Homo sapiens: one gene and its partners. The protein of the gene in region 3 interacts with the protein of the main gene of each other region in a pairwise test. Each region holds a gene or a part of one and is shown on either strand. Other genes may lie near its edges.

Region 1 (7,000 bases), on a different chromosome or scaffold from region 3:
GTATCCCATGAGCTTATCCAAATCCCTTATGAAAATCTGGTTTATAGGCCAAGCACGGTGGCTCATGTAATCCTAGCAGTTTGGGAGGCCGGAGTGGGTGGGTTGCCTGAGCTCAGGAGTTTGAGACCAGCCTGGGCAACATGGGAAAACCCCACCTCTACTAAAAATACAAAAATTCGCTGGGTGTGGTGGTGGGCGCCTGTAGTCCCAGGTACTCGGGAGGCTGAGGCATGAGAATAACTTGAACTCAGGAGTGGAGGTTTCAGTGAGCTGAGATTGTGCCACTTCACTACAGCCTGGGCGACAGAGCGAGACTCTGTCTCAAAAAAGAAAATCTGTTTTACAACTGTTTGACCCACATGAGTTGAATAGTTACTAAGGGGCACTCTTCATTTTCCAAGATAGTGAAACTATTGATATATACCCGTCTATATATATAGCTAAGAAGCGATTTTAGAAAAAGCTTACTATTTTGATTTTTACCTTATCACAGCATGAAAGTACAAATGTCGAAATGCCCCAAAATTGTATTTTTTAAAGTTGAAAATGATCTTGAAATAATCCAGAATTGATGAATGTTGCAAATGTATAAATGCCTTATTCAGTGTTTGTATTTTCCTTATGAATTTTTTTTAGAAAGAGAAAAAAGAGAAGCCAAAATCTGATAAGACTGAAGAGATAGCAGAAGAGGAAGAAACTGTTTTCCCCAAAGCTAAACAAGTTAAAAAGAAAGCAGAGCCTTCTGAAGTTGACATGAATTCTCCTAAATCCAAAAAGGCAAAAAAGAAAGAGGAGCCATCTCAAAATGACATTTCTCCTAAAACCAAAAGTTTGAGAAAGAAAAAGGAGCCCATTGAAAAGAAAGTGGTTTCTTCTAAAACCAAAAAAGTGACAAAAAATGAGGAGCCTTCTGAGGAAGAAATAGATGCTCCTAAGCCCAAGAAGATGAAGAAAGAAAAGGAAATGAATGGAGAAACTAGAGAGAAAAGCCCCAAACTGAAGAATGGATTTCCTCATCCTGAACCGGACTGTAACCCCAGTGAAGCTGCCAGTGAAGAAAGTAACAGTGAGATAGAGCAGGTACATTTGCACTTCATTGGGTAGAAGATATCTTTCATTGTTGTTTCAGATAAATAAGTAGGTAACTGCTATATGTACTCTTTAATAGTAGGAGAAAATGTGATGTGTCAGCACCTTGTGGGTTGGGGGATACCTTAGGCTGACTGGGACTTCATCTTAAAAATTAGCATACGACAGGGCATGGTGGCTCAGCTAAGAGTACTCTGTCTTTTTTATTTTTTTATTTTTTTGAGACAGAGTCTCGCTCTGTCACCTAGGCTGGAGTACAGTGGCACGATCTCAGCTCACTGCAACCTCTGCCTCCTGGGTTCAAGTGATTCTCCTACCTTAGCCTCCTCAGTAGGTGGGATTACGGGTGTGTGCTATCACGCCTGGCTAATTTTTTGTATTTTTAGTAGAGGCGGGCTTTCACCATGTTGGCCAGGCTGGTCTCGAACTCCCAACCCCAGGTGATCTGCCCGCCTGGGCCTCCCAAAGTGTTGGGATTACAGGCATGAGCTACTGTTCCCAGCGGACTCTGTCTTTAAAAAAAAAAAAAAAAAAATTAGCATAGTGTCACAATGCCTCCTTTACAAATAAGCAGATACTGCTTAAGCTTAGGGAGAGTCTTGGTCTGCTTATTTGCAAGTCAGTCAACAGAAGAGATACAGTTTTGTAAATGGGCCCTAGTTTCCCTCTGAGGGGTTTAACCAAATAAATTATTGGAATTACTGAAAAGGTTGATTGCATAAGTCCTTTTGGTTAGGCCATTAAGTAATCATCCTGGAGTTGAACAGGATGATAAAATGTCTGTCCAGAACCTAATTCTGTTATCTTTCAGAAACTCAGTTATGAAAGAAATACGAATTGTATTAAAAAAATTTGTTTTAGACATGGGATCTCGCTGTGTGGCCCAGGCTGGTCTAGAACTTGTGGCTTCAAGCGATAATCCCGCCTAAGCCTCCCGAGTAGCTGGGATTACAGGCACAAGCCACCACACCCAGCTGAAAAATACTAATTCTAATAGATTTTCTTTTTGCTATAGATCATGGTCAACATTTGTAACTTTTTTCCTGATTATAAAAAATATGTGATCCAGAGAAAATAGAAAATGCAGACATTTTGCAAAAAGAAAGAAATGCTTCCTGGAATTTCACCATTCATTTAGTAAATATTAATACCTGTACTTTTCAAGTACAGAAGTCATCTTGTTAATTTTTGGTGTTTCCTTGTAGTACTTTTAGTATATGCATCTATTATTTTTAATCAGATTAGGATTGTACTGTGCAATCTTGTATCTTTTTTGTTTCTAGCTAAGCATTTTCCTCGTTAAGTACGCTTAATGGTTACATAATCCTTCATATAAATGTCTTGAAATCTACTTACTACTTGTATTGAGCATTCAGATATCTTACTATCAAATAATGCCACAGTGACTGCTACCTCATAAAATGTTTGTTCATTTTCTATGGATGTGTGTATACAAGAGATGCTGCTTTGGAAGAGGGCTAATGACATTTCCATCAGTATATTGTTGATTATGGTTATGGAGTAGATCTTAGTTGAGATCTAGTCACACATAATCTTAGTTGAGATCTTAGTTGAGATCTAGTTACCCAGTATATATTTGCCTCAGATTTTTCTTTTGTTAAAGTTTTATAGATTTATGACAATGTTTCCTTTTCAGATCTCGAGTTACCTATCAAGGTTTTTGTATCTTTTTGGTTGATTTTTAAAGTGATGTGTTTAGAAGAATTGCTTTAGGATAGCTTGTTTTGTCTCTTTCTCAGAAGGTTCTCTATTAATTTGTGTAGGTGATTATTGATTTCTTTCTATGGCCCTTTACTTGATAGGAAATACCTGTGGAACAAAAAGAAGGCGCTTTCTCTAATTTTCCCATATCTGAAGAAACTATTAAACTTCTCAAAGGTAATGTTCTTGGAAATATCGTATGATGTTAGAACGTATTATTTTAACAGAAGCACTCCACTATTTTTGTTAAGATGAACCAGGATGTATTCTTATTGTAGGCTGATATATGCAGTCATATAATGAAGTAGGCCTGTGTATTCAATTTAGTACTATAGTAGTGATGGTTCTTCATGCTTCTTAAACAAGTGGTTAAAGCTTTTTCAGGCCCTCTGTGGTGGCTCACACCTGTAATTGATTGAGGCCAGGAGTTTGAGATCTTCCTGGGTAACATAGTGAGAACCTGTCCCGACAAAAAGTTTAAAAATTAGCTGGGCACGTGGTAACACACATCTATAGTCCTAACTACTCCAGAGGCTGAGGAAGGAAGATCGCTTGAGCCCAGGAGTTCAAGGCTTCAGTGAACTGTGGTCACACCACTGCACGCCAGCCTGGGTGACAGAATGAAACCCTGTCTCAAAAAAAATTGTATTTAATACAGTGTGTATTCAGAAGTGTATTGACTAATGGTGCTGGTGAAATTAAGCAATTAGGTGATGCCATATTAATGTTTTATCTCTTTCACTTCTGAGGCATCTCTAGATTAATGAGCCTAATTTATAGGCATAAACCCAGAATTCATTTAATAATCTGCTTCTGAAGTAGCTGGAGTCACAGTTACTCAAGTAGGTGCTTCCTAAATCAGGAGCAGCACAGTTGGATTGCAAAGCACCAGATTTTCAGGCTTATGGATGAGACTTCAAATATTTACTATAATTGGATGCTTTAAAGTTTGTTGATATTTTTCAGTCAAGCAGATTCTTTACTATCAGAATATTTCTGAGCCAGGTATGATGGCTTGCACCTGTAATCCCAGCTGTCCATCAGGCTGAGGCAGGAGGATCACTTGAGCCCAGGAGTTCAAGGCTGCAAGTGAGTTATGATCACACCACTGTACTCCAGCATGGGCGACAAAGCAAGACCTTGTCTCTTAAAAAATATACGTATTTGAGCCTAACTTTGTAGATGTTGACCAGAAGGTAGAATTCCTTAATTCTGCAGGACCAGAAGCATGAGTAGTATACTTCAGTATGTCAGTATGGCTAATGTTTTAAGAATTGCAGTGTGAGATAACACAGTTAATTTGTTCATAGGCCGAGGAGTGACCTTCCTATTTCCTATACAAGCAAAGACATTCCATCATGTTTACAGCGGGAAGGACTTAATTGCACAGGCACGGACAGGAACTGGGAAGACATTCTCCTTTGCCATCCCTTTGATTGAGAAACTTCATGGGGAACTGCAAGACAGGAAGAGAGGCCGTGCCCCTCAGGTAACTGTCTTAAATACAAGGGCTCTCAGTCAGCATAGGAAAAACCACCACTTGGGCATTGTGTACATACCCTACTATTTTTTATTGAGTTCTTATAGTCACCCATTCTATTTACTGTGGATCTTTATGTGAAAGTAATCCAGGACAATTCTTTTATATTTAATAATTAATATATACAGATCATTCTCTGTATATTTCAATATTTTAATCTTTCCCACAGTTTTGATCATCTATATAATTAATGCTATCATATTTCCTTCAAACCATTAGATGTCCCTGGGGCTCATAGCTTTCGTCAAGTGTCTGACCATTTTTGCCTAGATGGAGAAAGCATTTTTGGTAGAAAAGCATGAATGGGCGGTGGCTCACACCTGTAATCCCAGCACTTTGGGAGCCCGAGGTGGGCGGATCACGAGGTCAGGAGATCGAGACCATCCTGGCTAACAACATGAAAGCCCATCTCTAATAAAAATACAAAAAATTAGCCGGGCGTGGTGGCGGGCGCGTGTAGTCCCAACTACTTGGGAGGCTGAGGCAGGAGAATGGCGTGAATCCAGGAGGCGGAGCTTGCAGTGAGCCGAGATGCACCACTGCACTCCAGCCTGGGCGATAGAGCAAGACTCCGTCTCAAGAAAAAAAAAAAAAAAAAAAGAAAAGCATGAATGGAAAGAAGGGCAAGTCAGAGGTGAAAACGCCAAGCCCCCATATTAGGGTGAGTCCATTGGGTTCATTTCTAGAGAACTTGACATTTAACAAACATTAACCTCATTGAAATGACTGCGAATGCCCATGTAGTCACTTTGGCTGTGGGTTCTTGCAGTTGTCTTTCTGGCCTAACCTCACTTGCTCACTGGCCTTCCAGTGTCCATGCTCCCCCTTTGTTAATTTGTTTACTGCTATATCCCTAGCACATTTTAGATGAATGTATTAGGTGTTCTTGAATCATATTAGTTTCATACCATTACCCTATTTTTGAGGACCTGTAGCAGTTCAAGCAATTCTCCTGCCTTAGCCTCCCAAGTAGCTGGGATTACAGGCGTGTACCACCATGCCTGGCTAATTTTGTATTTTTAGTAGAGATGGGGTTTCACCATGTTGGCCAGGCTGGTCTGGAACTCCTGACGTCAAGTGATCCACCCACCTCAGCCTCCCAAAGTGCTGGAATTATAGGCTTGAGCCACTGCACCTGGACTTTTTTTTTTTTTTTTTTTTGAGACAAAGTCTCGCTTTGTCGCCCAGGTTGGAGTGCGGTGGTGCAATCTTAACCTCTGCCTCGCAGGTTTAAGTGATCCTCCCGCCTCAACATCCCAAGTAGTTGGGATTACAAGTGTGAGCCACCACGCCTGGCTCATTTGTATTTTTAGTAGAGATAGACTTTCACCATGTTGGCCAGGCTGGTCTTGAACTCCTGACCACCCACCTTGGCCTCCCAAAGTGCTAGGATTATAGGCATGAGCCATTGCGCCTGGCCAGCAGTTTCATGTTTTATATATATATAGATCAAATTCATATTGCTCTAGGATTCAAAGCCCCTTACATTGTTGGCTCTACCTTACTTCTCTGATTTTGTTCTGCTTCAAATTTTCTCTACTGTAGAGGTTAAGACTATAGGTTTTGGATCCCAATTGCTTGAAGGCTCTGCTCCTTCTTAGCCTTTGGGGTTTAGTCAAGTTATTTATCCTCTAATACCTAGCTCAAAAGGTTGCAAGAATTGAATCAGAATAATATATATAAAGAATTTAGTAGAGTCTCAGATCTATTAGACAAAAATATTAGATAATGTTATCGTCATCATCAGCGTTAGACCTTGTTCAAGTCGTTCTTTTCCTGGAATGCTGTTCTTTAAGGACTAGATTAAGAAACAAATACTACACAGTAATTTGAATTCAATTATTTTTCTTTATCAGGTACTGGTTCTTGCACCTACAAGAGAGTTGGCAAATCAAGTAAGCAAAGACTTCAGTGACATCACAAAAAAGCTGTCAGTGGCTTGTTTTTATGGTGGAACTCCCTATGGAGGTCAATGTGAGTACATTCAAAAAGTGAGGGAGGTATAATGCCACCCATTGTTGACTGCTCTGATTGGATTTCTTTTCACCTTGACATCTGGCTTCTCTATATAGGATAGTCGTTTATGGGGATTTTCTTTTGCCATTGTTTAAACATGGTCAAGAACATGGTCCTGCTTGATGATAGGCAAATCCTGTATATCGTTCTTAGGACTTTTATCTATTTATATTTATCTAGGGGCTACAAAAGTAATTTATTATTGAACCCAAAAAGACAGTCCATTTGGGCTCTAGGAAATAGGAAGTCAGAATTCAAGGTTCCTCTTGTCTGTCAGGACCTTGGGTCTGTCCCTCTTTCTGCATGGTTGCTTCTTTCTTGATGTAGGCAGGCTTTCTTTCCTTGGGGCTCAAGGGCCAAATGTTAGTCTCTACTCTTATATTCCATTACTTCCCAGTTCAAGGCCTTGGAGCTTTATTATTAGAGCAGATGTATAAATTAGGAAGGGATTTAAGGAATTTAAAAAAATCATAGTTTTGGCCAGGCGCAGTGGCTCACGCCTGTAATCCCAGCACTTTGGGAGGCTGAGGCGGGCAGATCACAAGGGCAGGAGATCGAGACCATCCTGGCTAACACGGTAAAACCCCGTCTCTACTAAAAATACAAAAAATTAGCCGGGCGTGGTGGCAGGCA
Region 2 (7,159 bases), on a different chromosome or scaffold from region 3:
CTAGATAGTAAAAAGAGGCTCCTTCCTCTTCCCCCTAGTCCCTCAGTCCTAGACTTGGGAGACACAAGCAAGTAACAGTCCCTCTAAGCTCCCTTCTCCTTACCTCACCCTAGACCACCCTTTTCAAGAGGAAAACTCTGAATAAGAACCCAGTTCCCTTGGGCTGACTTCCTTGCCGGTTCCCTAGTGTAAGGAACAGGGTTAAGGAAATTTTCAATGCCCTTGTCAAAATTACAGTGTATCAATGTAAGAGCCTACTTGCCTTAATAAAAACTTACTAGGAAAACAGAGACGTAGAACACTGTAGGAAAAAAATAATCCCTTAGCAACCCCACCTTATTCTATCTTTCTGCCACTACCATAGGCCAGGCCTTGGTTACCTACAAAGGTCAGAGGACAATAGTTCAGGGTGAAGGATCAAAGATGTTCCAGGCCTCAGTGTACCCTGGGAAAGCAGCAGGGTACAACCAAGAGGACTTACCACCAGGTACGGTGGCTCACGCCTGTAATCCCAGCACTTTGGGAGGCCAAAGTGGGCGGATCACAAGCTCAGGAGTTCGAGACCAGCCTGACTAACATGGTGAAACCCCGTCTCTACTAAAAATACAAAAATTAGCTGAGTGTGGTGGCGCGCACCTGTAATCCCAGCTACTCAGGAGGCTGAGGCAGGAGAATCACTTGAACCCAGGAGGCGGAGGTTGTAGTGAGCCAAGATCGCACCACTGCACTCCAGCCTGGGTGACAGAGTGAGTGAGACTCCGTCTCAAAAATAAATAAATAAATAAATAAATAAATAAATAAATAAATAAATAAAGAGGCCTTACCTTCCTGCCCTAAATTTATCCTGCTTTATTTTTTTTTATATAGCGGTTATCACTACTTGACTTCTCCCTCCCCCTCCACAATTTCTTTCTCCCCTTAATAGAATGGAAGCTCCATGAGAGCAGCAACTTTGTTTCGTTCATGCTCATATTCCCAGAGCCAACATTAGTCCCTGGCAATGTTCAATAAACATTGACTGAAGAAAACAACAGGCCCTGGGCTGAGTGAACAGCAATCCGGCGATCTGGATCCTATCTTCTGCCCTTTCACTGTGACATCTGGGGAATCACAGTCTCTTTAGCCATAAATTTCCAAACCTGTAAAATGAGGTGTTTGTATAAACAATGACTGCTGAGGGCCTCTGCAGCTCTACAATTCTAATGACTGTTGTTCACTCATCTCCATATCAGAGGATAGCTCCAGGCATTCGAATGCTCTGCTGCCTGTACCAAAGCAGAAAGGCTATATCCTCCAGTCTCAGCACAGCAAACTGATGCCCTTTCTCTTCATGCCCCACCCACTCACACAAACCGCCCCAGTCCTGAGGAAGCTGGAGAGTCTGCCCTAGGCCCGCCCTCTCTGAGAGACTGTCTGGGAAGCAGTGTTGCCATAGCAATCAGCTCCTCCTCAAAAGGCTTCAGCCTGCCCTTTTTTACCCCACCCTACCCCAGGGCTTTGTCTGTCCTCAGCAGACCCACCCCCCTCCCCAGCCAGTCTCTCAGCTCCTGGGTGGTTGTGTGAGGAGGCTGGCTTGGGGCCCCTTTTAGCAACACTGTCACACTCATTTAGCCACTGTGTGGAACTCAAGCCTTTCCCACCCTCTCCCAGCCAGCCCAGGGGCAAAAAGAACTCTAGCACTCCATCAAATCCCCTCAGGGAAGCAGAGGAGCCCTCAAGAGAACTAGGTCCTAGCCTGTTCTGATAGTGCTTCCAAGCCTGGAGTGTGGGGAGCCACTCCCTCTTCCTCCCCTAGCTGTGGCTGGAACCTCACAACCCTTACTGGGTTCAGCTTACAGTCGTGGCCCACCTCTCAAAACAGACAGAAGACCCTCAATACTCCTCACCACTTCCCCCCTCCCACAGAAGCCCTAGCGTTCCCTACCCAGAAGGATAAGGGTGGGGAAAATCTGTTTGTGGCAAGTGGTTAAATGTGGCTACCAGTCACTTGGGGATCTATGCGAGAGACCTGGGTGGTAGTGGTGGGGGTGGGGTCTGAGCCCTGCCGCTGGTTACCAGGGTCTCTGGTCATTGATAACAAAGTACCGGGCAGGGCACAGCTCCTAGATGGGCAAGGGCCAGGCCAGGCCCTGGGGCAAGGAAGGAAGTGGGAAATGAGCACACCCAGAGCATAAGGGCAGGGCGGGGGAGGGGGGAGACAGAGACCAAGGCCGGCTCTGGGAGGAACAGGAACTAGGATGGGGGGTTGACAGGAACCCAGCGGGGGAAGGGTCCCCCGGGACCTCAGCTTAGGGAAGAAACCCCAGTCTCAGCTGGACAGATCCAAAATAGACTGAGGAGACATTCACACAAGCCCTAGTGACAAGCAGGGTCTGACTCCTCTCTGAGTGCCCAGGCCAGAAGGCGGAGTTAAAAGCTGAGCAGACAGGAGTGCAATAGATTGGCCTCTTCACCCCACTAACCCCAACACCCTTGCTCTTAGAACCCAGAACACAAGTGTCTTCCTGTAGTTACTACAATGCCCTAAACTGTTACTTTGTCAAAGTACTGGGGGTTCTGTTCTCCTGCCTCAAGTTGGGCCTACAACCCCTTCCCCTAGATAGTGCCCGCAGACCCTCCGACACCGCTACACTCCTTCTCCATTAAACAGCCCCCCTTCCTTCAAAGCACCTCCATGTCCCCTGCCCCTCATGTACCTCCTCCAACCCCCCACATCAGACAGAGACAGCCCCCTCACAATGTACCTCGCAACCCCCCCACAACAAAGCGCTCCCGCCCTTCCCCCATAGAGGCCTCTGGAGAATGCACCTTGTTGCCCACACATTGAGTCCCCAACTGCTCCCGCGACTTCGTATCTTCCCTCAACACACAGCAGTCTCCAGATCGTCTGCAAAGCGCACCCCCATCCGCGTCCCTTCTTCCACGCTCACCCTGCCCCACACCTGTAGTTCCGTGGGTCCCGTTGCACTTGGGGACGTGGTAGTGGTTGGGGCAGTTACTGAGCAGCCCTAGCTGTAGCCTCCGCCTGCAAACCTCGCCCCTTCAGTCTGAGCCCCGCCCCCGCAACGCCCGGGCCCACCCTCTCCCTTGTCCCACCTTCCACCTTCTGTGGACTTGTCCCTTTCCTCGTTTAATTTCTCGAGCTCCTCCCCTGTAGCCCGGGCCCCGCCCCCTTCTGACCTCGCACCTCCTTCGCGTTTTCTTTGCATTTCCCCAGGATCCTCAGCTTTTCCCAGGCCCCACCCCCGATCCCCGCCTCCTCTCGGTCTCTCCGCCTTTCACCAGGACCCGCCCCCTCGGATTCCAGCCTGGCAGAAGTCGCGCCAAGACCCTTCCACCACGATCCCCCTCCCATCTCAGAGCCCCTCCTCCTTCCGCCCCTTCTCCCTCACGCCTCACCCGGGCGGTCGCACTCCAACCAGGATCCGCTGGCTCTGATTGGCGGTGGCGGCCCCAAAGGAGGAAGGAGGAGACAAAGTGATGGTCGCAGGTCGCCTGAGGTCCCACCCCGGCCACGTGCGGCTTCTGTGATGACAAGTCTAGAGGGGCGGGGCCTCGGCCGGCAGGCTGCTAGCCTGAGCGGAGCGGATCAGGGCAGAGGTGGGGAGATGGAGCCAGGGCCAAAGCCACCAGCCTGAGGGCTCTGAGCCGGGTTGGGGCTATCTCGCTGCTTTCGCACCGGTGTGAGCTGCCGCCGGAACTCTAACCTCTTTGTAGGGATGTCTGGGTGGGCGCGTGCATTTGCACTAATAGGGGAGGTCCGTAGGGATTGCAAGGTAGTGCAAGGAATCTCAGGGGTCTGTGAAAATGAGGGAATCTGGGCGGTGGGGTTCAGGTCTGCGAGGTTGAGCAGTTTCTGAAGCCTACGCTGTGCAGGCGGGTGTGGGTTCTGGGATGGGATGGACAGTAGGAGTCAGATCAGTACCTACTGAGGCAGGTCAGCGAGATCTGTGAATTTTACGAGATGAGTGTTGATATGGAGTTAGGAGGGCCTGCAATTGCTGGAGAAAAGTGAGGCCTTTCCCTTGTACAGGTGTCTAATGAACTGCATGACAGTTACATATGTTCTGCAGTTTAAGCGGCGCCCTCTCCAACCTCTCCCCAGGAGATACAATAAGGGAGGGCGACGCTTCCCAGACACCGGTAGATGGCAGCACAGGACACTTGCAGAACTGAGACAGCCCAGCTCAGCGCCGATCTGTGGCCTCTCCGAGGAGCGGACCGTTTGGGTCTGGATTTGATCAAGTTCTACAAAAGTCACATTCTTTTTTATTTTTTTTTGAGACGGCGTCTCGCTCTTTCGCCCAAACTGGAGTGCAGTGGTGCGATCTCGGCTCACTGCAACCTCCGCCTACTGGGTTCAAGCAATTCTCCTGCCTCAGCCTTCAGAGTAGCTGGGATTACAAGCGCGCGCCACCAGGCCGGGCTAATTTTCGTATTTTTGGTAGAGACAGGTTTCACCATGTTGGCCAGGCTGGTCTCAAATTCCTGACCTCAAGCGATCCGCCCGCCTCGGCTGCCCAAAGTGTTGGGATTACTGGCGTGAGCCACAGCACCCGGCCAAATCTCAGATTCTTTAGGCTCTGTGACTTTGTCAGTAGTTAACTTAAACTGGTTTACTCAACGTCAGTGGTGTGGAAGCGCAAAAAAAAGAAAGAAAAAAGTATTTTCTCTGGCCATAAGGAACTTATTATTTAGACAGTGATACAAATGCCTACATAATCCCAGAAGGGTAAACTAAGAAAGGTTTTGGGTAGTGGGAAAACCACAGAGTTTGAAGTCATCTAAACTTCTTCAACTTCAACTTCAAACTTCAACTTATGGGTTCAACTTATGAGTTTGTCTCATACCTTTGAGTATTTACTAGCTGTATAGATTTAGGTAAATTATTTGACTTTAAAAAATTAATTTTAGAACAATTTTAGATTTACAGAAAACTTGTAAAAATAGTGCAGAGAGTTTTCATATATACCCTACACCTAGTTTCTCCTATTATTAACATCTTTCCTTATATGGTTCATTTATTACAATTAATAAGCCAATATTGATACATTAACAATAACTAAAACCCACACTTTATTCTGATTTTCTTTTTGTTTTTTTGAGACGGAGTTGTCGCTCTTTCACCCAGGCTGGAGTGCAGTGGCAAGATCTCGGCTCACTGTAACCTCCACCTTCTGGTTTCAAGAGATTCTCCTGCCTCAGCCTCCCGAGTAGCTGGGATTACAGGCATGTGCCACCACGCCTGGCTAATTTTGTATTTTTAGTAGAGATAGGGTTTCTCCATGTTGGTCAGGCTGGTCTCGAACTCCCGACCTCAGGTGATCCACCCGCCTCGGCCTCTCAAAGTGTTGGAATTACAGGTGTGAGCCACCGCGCCCGGCCTATTCTGATTTTCTTAGTTTTTGCCTTATGTCCTTTTTCTGTGCCAAAATCTAACCCAAGCTGGAACATTACATTTAGACATCATGTCTCCTTTGGCTCCTCTTGGCTGTGACAGTTTTTCAAACTTCCTTGTTTTTGATGACCTTAACAGTTTTTGTTTTGTTTTGAGACAGAGTCTTGCTCTTTCGCCCAGGCTGGAGTGCAGTGGCACGATCTTGGCTCACTGCAATCTCTGCCTCCTGGGTTCAAGCGATTCTCCCACCTCAGCCTCCTGAGTAGATGGGACTACAGGTGCATGCCACCACGCCGGGCTAATTTTTGTATTTGTAGTAGAGACAAGGTTTCACCATATTGCCCCGGATGGTCTTGATCTCCTGACGTTGTGACCCACCCGCCTCAGCCTCTCAAACTGTTGGGATTACAGGCATGAGCCACTGTGCCCGGCCGTTTTTTTTTTTTTTTTTTGGTTGTTGTTGTTTTATTTTGAGACAGAGTTTTGCTCTTGTTGCCCAGGCTGGAGTGCAATGGCGCAATCTTGGCTCACTGCAACCTCCGCCTCCTGGGTTCAAGCGATTCTCCTGCCTCAGCCTTCTGAGTACCTGGGATTACAGGCATGTGCCACCACGCCTGGCTAATTTTGTATTTTTTGTAGAGATGAGGGTTTCTCCATGTTGGTCATGGCTGATCTCGAACTCCCGACCTCAGGTGATCCACCCGCCTTGGCCTTCCAAAGTGCTGGGATTACAGGCGTGAGCCACCGCTCCTGGACTAGTTTTGTTTTTTAAGAGACAGGGTCTCATTCTGTCACCCAGGCTGAAGTACAGTGGTGCAATCATAGCCCTTGTAACTTTGAGCTCCTGGGCTCGAGGGATACTCCTGCCTCAGCCTCCAGAGTAGCTAGGACTACAAACACATGCTACCAAAAAAGAAAAAAAAATTTTAATTTTTTATTTTTTTTAATTTTTTATTATATTTTATTTTATTTGAGATGGAGTCTCGCTCTGTCACTGAGGCTGGAGTACAACGGTGTGATCTCAGCTCATTGCAACCTCTGCCTCCCAGGTTCAAGTGATTCTCCTGCCTCAGCCTCCTGAGTAGTGGGATTACAGGCATAAGCCATCACACCTGGCTAATTAATTTTTGTATATTTAGTAGAGACAGGGTTTTATCATATTGGCCAGACTGGTCTCAAACTCCTGTCCTCAAGTGATCCGCCTACCTTGGCCTCCCAAAGTGCTGGGATTATAGGCGTGAGCCACCAGCGCCTGGCCTTTAATCTTCTATTGTAGAGATAGGGCTTGCTAGGTTGCCCATACTGGTCTACAACTCCTGGCCTCAAGTTATCCTCCTGCCTCAGCTTCCCAAAGTGCTGGGATTACAAGTGTGAGCCAGAGCACCTGGCATCATATTGCAGTCTTTAAAAAAAAAAAAAAACAACAGTGGTAGCTAAGCAGTCTGAGTCTTTATTTTTCTACAAGATTTTTAGAACTTCTTTATGAAATACTTGAGGCATACAGGAAGCTCTAAAGAATATTATAACAAATACCCATATTCTGGCCAGGTGTGGTGCCTCACACCTGTAATCCCAACACTTTGGGAGGCTGAAGCAGGTGGATCACTTGTGGTCATGAGTTCGAGACCAGCCTGGCCAACATGGTGAAACCCCATCTCTACTAAAAAGACAAAAATTAGCTGGGTGTTGTGGCACATCCCTGTAGTCCCAGTTACTCGGGAGGCTGAGGTGCGAGAATTGGTTGAGCCTGGGAGGCAGAAA
Region 3 (8,100 bases):
TTCTTCAAACTCCCTAACCTTTGTCTAATCTTAATTTTTGCTGACTAAATCCCCCCAATCCTTGGTATTCCACTTAAGGGAATTTGTACTCTTTCAGCTATCCTAACTTAATATCTATCATTTCCTTTTAACAGGTCTTTCCTTTATGTCTTTTTTGTGACAGGGTTTCACTCTGTCACCCAGGCTGGAGTGCAGTGACACAATCACAGCTCATTGAATCCTCAAACTCCTAGGCTCAAGCAATCCCCCCATCCCACCCCCGCCCAGCATCCCAAGTAGCTGGGACTACAGGTGTGTACCACCACATCTGGCTGATTTTTTTATTTTTTGTAAAAATGGGGTCTCACCGTGTTGCCCAGGCTGGTTTCGAACTTTTTGGCTCAAGCGATCTGCCTGCCTCAGCCTCCCAAAGTGCTGGGACTACAGGTGTAAGCCCCAACATGTCTTTTAATAGGTCTCTCCTATATCAGCCTTTAACCTTTTTTAGCCATTCTGCATACCATTGATTTGAACATTATTTTCTTTCCTCCCTTTTTCAATGCCCCATCCTTAGCATATCTGTAGAATACACTCCTCACTCCCATCCTGAAACACACACACACATGCACAAACACCCTGTTACTTGCTTCTTAGTTAGTTTCAGCTCTCTTGATCTAATCCTTGTCGTTCCTACACATCATGATCCTTCCATGCATGATACCTGTTTTATTTCCCACTGTCACTGCCTTTCTTTTTAAATCCATCTTTGAAAAGCTAGTTCAGTTGTCACTTTCTTTGTGAGGTCTTCCATTACTATTCGAAAATATAATGATCTTGTTTTTTCAACAAAATTATACAGCCTTGTAATATCCCTAGTATGTAAAGCAGATGGTGTAATGGAGACAGATGGGGTTCTAGCTTTAAGACCAGCCTAGAGCGTGTGATAGTGGTTAAAGTGAGATGATGAGGGCCTCAACTAGCACTTGATATTAGGGGTGATTATATAAATGTAAGAAATGTTTAAGAGGTAAAATCGACATGATATATTGATTAGATGTGTCTGTGGAGAGGAAGTCGAAGTCAAGGGAAATAATGACTGGCTAAATGTTGTAATACCAGTGGACATAAAGAAGCAGGTTCATAGTGACTGGCTTTGGGAGCCAAAGAGATTTTTTAAGTAGAGATGGCTGCTGGGTGCAGTGGCTCATGCCTATAATCCCAGCACTTTGGGAAGCCGAGGTGGGCAGATCACCTGAAGTCAGGGGTTCAGGACCAGCCTGGCCAACATAGTGAAACCCTATCTCTACTAAAAGTACAAAAATGAGCCAGGTGTGGTGATGTGCACCTGTAATCCCAGCTACTTGGGAGGTGGAGACGAGAATCACTTGAACCCCAGAGGCAGAGATTGCAATGAGTCAAGATGGCGCCACTGCACTCCCGCCTGGGTGATGGAGGGAGACTCCATCTCAAAAAAAAAAAAAAAGTAGGGTTGGCTAGCAGGCAATTGGATTATAACAAGGTGAAATTCAAGGACAAGGCAAAGAATAGCCATATCTTATCAGTCTTAAGATTCATTAATTTAAGTGGTAGTTATGTGTCTAAAAAGATGTGTTATTGTTTTTTTACAGTCCTTCATTACAGTTTGAAGCTGCTTGGGCATTAACTAACATAGCATCAGGAACTTCTGCACAGACTCAAGCTGTTGTGCAGTCTAGTAAGTAAATTCCTTACTGTCTGAACTTTTTGTGTTTTAATGATGGCAAGGAAGTAGAGTTTTGTAATAAAGAAATTTTATCTTGTAACATTTTTTAAATGATGACTTTTATAAGTTACTTTTGATGACCGATATCTTTTTCATAGCCGTCATTAATTTATCATGAAAAATTTTTAATTGTGGTTATTAAAAGAAGAGTAGAGTTTTATCTTTTGGAGTAGACATCATGCTGTGATAACAGGATTTTAAATTCCGTTTCTGATATCTTCAAGATGCTGAATGGCTTCTGCCTTTTAGCTTATGACATATTTTAAATTTTACTTTCCTCAAGATGGGCTAATAATTATTGTTAAATGACACTGACACAAGCTCTTTAGAAAAGTACTAGATATCACCACGTACGTTATTATAGTATGGGACACTTAGCTAATTTTAGGTGTGGTAATCAAGGTGATTTTAAGTAGCATGTGATATGGCAGTAAGTTACATTGAATCATGTATTGAGAATACTATTCTCACCAGACCCACAGGTGGCTCATGCCTCTAATCCCAGCACTTTGGGAGGCTAAGGCAAGCAGATCACTTGAGTTCAGGAGTTCAAGAACAGCCTAGGTGACATGACAAAATCGTGTCTCTACAAAATATTTAAAAATTAGCATTGCATGGTGGCGCATGCCTATAGTCGCACCTACTCAGGAGACAGAGGCGAGAGGATCGCTTGAGCCAGGGAGGCAGAGGTTGCAGTGAGCCGAGACTGCACACTGCATTCCAGCCCCGGCGACAGAGTGAGACCCTATCTCAAAAACAAAGGCTGGGTGCAGTGGCTCAAGCCTGTAATCCCAGCACTTTGGGAGGCCGAGGCGGGTGGATCACGAGGTCAGGAGATCAAGACCATCCTTGCTAACATGGTGAAACCCTGTCTCTACTAAAAATACAAAAACAAAATTAGCCGGGCATGGTGGCGGGCGCCTGTAGTCCCAGCTGCTTGGGAGGCTGAGGCGGGAGAATGGCGTGAACCCGGGAGGCGGAGCTTGCAGTGAGCCGAGATCGTGCCGCTGCACTCCAGCCTGGGTGACAAAGCGAGACTCCACCTCAAAAAAAAAAAAAAAGTTATCATGTGACCCAGCAGTTCTACTCCTAGGTGAAACCAAGAGATATGAAAACATATTCATACAAACACTTGTACATAAATATTCACAGCAATGTTATTCATAACTAACCCAAATGTTCATTAACCGAGGAGTGGATAAAGTGAATGTGGTGTATACAATGGAATACAATTCAGCAGTAAAAAAGAATGAAGTACCAATACCTGTTACCACATGGATGAACCTGAAGAATGTTAAGTGAAGTCAGACCCCCCAAAAAACACAGTATGATTTCATTTGTATGAAATGTCCAGAATAGGCAAATCTGTAAAGACAGAAAGCAGATATTTAATGGTTGCCTGCCGCTTGGGGAATGTGTGGCAGAGGAACAAATGTGGAATGACTGCCTTAAGTATGAGATTTCTTTTTTCTTTTTTCTTTTCTTTTTTTTTTTTTTTTAAGACGGAGTCTCGCTCTGTCGCCAGGCTGGAGTGCAGTGGCGTGATCTCAGCTCACTGCAACTTCCGTCTCCTGGGTTCAAGCAATTCTCCTGCCTCACCCTCCCAAGTAGCTGGGACTACAGGCACACACCACCATGTCCAGCTAATTTTTGTATTTTTAGTAGAGACGGGGTTTCACTATGTTGGCCAGGATGGTCTCAACCTCTTGACCTCGTGATCTGCCCGCCTCGCTTCCCAAAGTGCTGAGATTATAGGTGTGAGCCACTGTGCCCGGCTGAGTATGATATTTTTTTTTTTTGAGACAGAGTCTTGCTCTGTCACCCAGGCTGGAGTGCAGTGGCACGATCTTGGCTCACTGCAACCTCCGTCTCCCTGGTTCAAGCAGTTCTCTGCCTCAGCCTCCAAAGTAGCTGGGATTACAGGCGCCCACCACCACGCCCGGCTAATTTTTATATTTTTAGTAGAGACAGGGTTTCACCATCTTGGCCAGGCTGGTCTTGAACTCCTGACCTGGTGATCCATCTGCCTCGGCCTCCCAGAGTGTTAGGATTACAGGCATGAGCCATCATACCCAGCCAAGATTTCTTTTGAGGTCCTGGAAATGTTATAAAATTAGATTGTGGCGATGTCCTCACAACTCTGTATAAATATGAAATGTCATTGAATTACACACTTAAATGTAAATTTATTGTAATTATATCTCCGTAAAGTTGTTAAAACTGAATTAATTTAAATTTTAAGTAAATAATACAAGTAATACACAGATACAGCAAAAAAAAAAAAATGAGGTAGTGCACAGTTGATTGAAATTTTTAAAAAGTGATCTAGCTTATGCTGGAAATGGGTATAATGTATACATTCTGTAAAGAGTAAGGATTATGAGAAATTATTTTAAAGTATAAGATAGACCTGATATGAGATTAATCAGTTCTTTGGTTAATCCCCGTATCAGGAATTGAGATTTTGTAGACTAAAGCATTACATTTTAAGGTTACATGTTTGGGGTAGGAACTCTTTTTTTTTTTTTTTTTTTTTTAATGGATTATAGGAAGGATTTCATGCTGTTGCTTTCTTTTAGTTAATGGTATGATAGCAACCTTTAGATACTGCCAGTTGGTTACGGTACTTGACTATTACTAGGGGAAAATACTGAAATTGATTCTTTTTAGGGTAAAGATATTTGCCACATTTGTTCTTCCAGCTACAATATGCCAGGCTGTGTATTTGATCAATTTCTTTGATCTGAAATCTGTAAACTCTTCAACATGTTGCTAGTATAAATATTAGTTTTTCTTTATTACAGATGCAGTACCTCTTTTTCTGAGACTTCTTCGTTCACCACATCAGAATGTTTGTGAACAAGCAGTATGGGCTTTGGGAAACATTATAGGTAAGTGGTTTGAAAGGAATCCTCTTAAGAATCTAAATTAACTTTTTTCCTACATTGGCATAGCCATTACATACTATGTTTCCTCTGAATTTAATGTGTGTTGACTCTCTTCTTGCCTCATAAGTACTGACTTAAGATGATGCTCTTTGAAAAGGATATACAGTTTGCTGTTAGCATTGGTAGGTTAAATTTACGTTCCCCAGATCAAAATCTGGAGAAACAACACTTGATGCCTTTGACTAATGGTGAGGAAACATAGAACGTCAGTGTTCCCACATGAGCCATTGCATACATTTCAGACTTTCTCATCCTGAATGTAAGTTTTTTTTAAATATAATTTTCATTTCTGTAGGTGATGGTCCTCAATGTAGAGATTATGTCATATCACTGGGAGTTGTCAAACCTCTTCTGTCCTTCATCAGTCCCTCCATCCCCATCACCTTCCTTCGGAACGTCACATGGGTCATTGTCAATCTCTGCAGGAATAAGGATCCCCCGCCGCCTATGGAGACAGTTCAGGAGGTAAATGAAGAATTGTAAAGGCCAGATGGTATATTTTCCCTATGTTTGTACTTCAGGAATTCATATACAGGGGACAAAATAATACATATACTGATTTCATTGCAGGTGTGAGTTTTTTGTTTGTTTGTTTGTTTGATAACGGAGTCTTGCTCTGTCGCCCAGGCTGGAGTGCAGTGGCGCGATCTTGGCTCACGGCAAGCTCCACTTCCTGGGTTCACGCCATTCTCCTGCCTCAGCCTCCTGAGTAGCTGGGACTACAGGCACCCGCCACCACGCCTGGCTAATTTTTTTGTATTTTTAGTACAGACGGGGTTTCACCATGTTAGCCAGGATGGTCTCGACCTCCTGACCTCGTGATCTGCCCGCCTCGGCCTCCCAAAGTGCTGGGATGACAGGCCTGAGCCACCACGCCCAGCCACAGGTGTAAGATTTTAAAAGTAACGTACCATATTTAATTACTCCTATGAAATAAAAGTTGAGTGTCTTACTGTACCTGAAAGAATGTCAGTTCATCCTAATGCCTATTTTTTTGATTATCTGCATAAAAAGAAAATATAAAAATTCAGAGAGAAAAATACAAAAGGAAAACAATCTCAAAGTTTTATTACTGTATTGCATTGTTGGTTTAAAGCTATAAAAGGGGGTTGCTACAGGCAAAACTAGTATACTTACATGCAAATGTTCTTGAATGAGTTTGCTTTAAGTCCAATTGATTTTTTTTCTTCTTCTTCTTCTTTTGAGACAGTCTTGTTCTATTGCCCAGGCTGGAGTGCAGTGGCATGATCTCAGCTCACTGCAGCCTCTGCCTCCTGGGTTCAAGCGAGTCTCGTGCCTCAGCCTCCTGAGTAGCTGGGATTACAGGCCAGCGCCACCACACCCGGCTAGTTTTTGTATTTTTAGTAGAGATGGGGTTTCACTGTGTAGGCCAGGCTGGTCTCAAACTCCTGACCTGAAGTGATCTGCTCACCTCAGTATCCCAAAGTGCTGGGATTACAGGTGTGAGCCACTGCCCCCACGGCCTAACTCCAATTTATTACTGACAAAATTGGAGTTCTTAAAAGTGTGACATATTTTTTGTTAAATCTACTAATTAAAACAAAGTAAAAACTTTTTTATTTACATTTGATATGTAAATAGATCCTTGTGCTTTGCATTTTAAAAAAAAATCCTACATAACCTTTATTCACTGTTGACTGTGTTATCTCTTTTTTTTTTTTTTTTTTTTGAGACAGTCTCGCTCTGTTTCCCAGGCTGGAGTGCAGTGGCACAATCTTTGCCCACTGCAGCCTCCACATCCGGGGTTCAAGCGATTCTCATGTCTCAGGCATGTGCCACCATGCCAGGCTAATTTTTGTATTTTTAGTAGAAATGGGTTTTCACCATGTTGGCCAGCTGGTCTTGAACTCCTGGCATCAAGCAGTCCACCCACCTCACCCTCCCAAAGTGGTGGGATTACAAGCATGAGCCACCACACTTGGCCAACTGTGTATCTTTATAATGGACATCTTTCTCTAGTACCTGCTACTTTTTGTTGCTATGCAAAGGTATTTTGTGTGATTTCCTACAACCCCCTGCTCCCTTTCTCCCATATTTTAAAAAGAGATCTCTGGGGCCTGAATTTAACAAGCAAAGCTTTGTACTTTGTACTGGTTCGAATTTTCTTGACTAAAGGTGAAGTTGAAAACTTTAATTTGACTTAAGTAGCTTATTAAGTAAAATCGTATTTTTACGTTAAGCAGGTAAGTGAGACAATTACGGCAGTTTTAAGTGTAGCTTTTCTTAAATAGCTGTAACTGTATATTTGCATCTCCATTTTTTCCACTTGACATTTTATGCCATAAAGAAGGTTATTAAAAACAAATGTTTTTATTTTAAGGTACATTAACTTCTGCCAGATTTATTTGGATATTTTAACTTGTTAATTGAACATATTTCAGTTTAACATTTGAGATATGTTTTTGGTTTTTTTAGATTGAATTTATCAGGTTTTCATTTTCCTAAAAGATATTCAGACAAATTTAACATTGTCTTTCTCGCCCTACAAACCATATTTACCGCTTTTTATGTCAAAGTTGTTCATTTTTACAGACATATTAATTAACTAATGTTAAGTATTGTTTATTTTCTTTCCTCAGATTTTGCCAGCTTTATGTGTCCTCATATACCATACAGATATAAACGTAAGTTAAGAAGCAGCTTAAATGTGGGATTTTGCTCTTGATGGGACAGAAAGGGTTTTTATGTAAGTGTCAGCATACATTTTATCAACTTGTCAAGTTTCTACAACGTATTTACAGTTTTCAGAAATAGGATTAAGCTTAAATTAGGTTTATAGCTTAAATCTGTAAGCAGTAACAGCCAGACAGCAAAAATGCTCACTTTTGAGAAATTACTGCATATGTAGTTTATTTCTGTCATTATTAAGTAGTGTTTTTAAACCTTAATATTTGTAAAGCGGTAAAACCTCATGAAACACCTTACTTTTTAAAAAAAATCTCACTGGTTCTTACAACAGATAGGCTAGATATTATTCCCCCCATTTTATAGAATAAGAAGAAACGGACTCTCAGAGAGAGATTAAATGACTTATCTAAAGTGGAAGAGCTAGTAAGGGTCAGAGTCAATATTCAAATTAAAGTCTTCTCATAACAGGTCTTGGGTACTTGTCACAAAACCATGCTGCCTTTTTATGCTACAGTCTTTTTAGATATAGTATAGAAGAATATATAGTTTTAAATGCAAGGCATTTTTAGGTGATTTTTTTTCATTATATTCAGATTTAGTGAAGCATTTACTGTCAACGTTCTGGCAAGTTTGATACTATCTAGGCAATCTGAAAATTCTCCTAAATGCAGTAAGGTAAATTGTTACTTTTCCATGGAGTAAAACAGTGGATAAATTTCGGTGACTAGTGTTGATCCAGTTTCTTTTATTCTAACTAACATC

Evidence for each region. The genes of interacting proteins can lie anywhere in the genome.
Region 1: the proteins of KPNA3 (region 3) and DDX21 interact in binary tests that used the Homo sapiens proteins (3 or more experiments, as listed by UniProt).
Region 2: the proteins of KPNA3 (region 3) and ATOSB interact in binary tests that used the Homo sapiens proteins (3 or more experiments, as listed by UniProt).

Annotation. Positions count from the first base shown.
Region 1 is NC_000010.11:68,959,170-68,966,169, forward strand, and holds part of DDX21 (nucleolar RNA helicase 2), read left to right. Parts: intron 1-636; coding exon 637-1,080; intron 1,081-2,912; coding exon 2,913-2,988; intron 2,989-4,121; coding exon 4,122-4,300; intron 4,301-6,207; coding exon 6,208-6,325; intron 6,326-7,000.
Region 2 is NC_000009.12:35,112,863-35,120,021, forward strand, and holds the start of ATOSB (atos homolog protein B), read right to left. Parts: upstream 3,001-7,159; 5' UTR 2,943-3,000; exon of another isoform or gene 2,809-2,942; intron 1-2,808. UniProt on the Homo sapiens protein: Transcription regulator that may syncronize transcriptional and translational programs.
Region 3 is NC_000013.11:49,719,009-49,727,108, reverse strand, and holds part of KPNA3 (importin subunit alpha-4), read left to right. Parts: intron 1-1,607; coding exon 1,608-1,693; intron 1,694-4,545; coding exon 4,546-4,632; intron 4,633-4,984; coding exon 4,985-5,154; intron 5,155-7,289; coding exon 7,290-7,334; intron 7,335-8,100. UniProt on the Homo sapiens protein: Functions in nuclear protein import as an adapter protein for nuclear receptor KPNB1. Binds specifically and directly to substrates containing either a simple or bipartite NLS motif.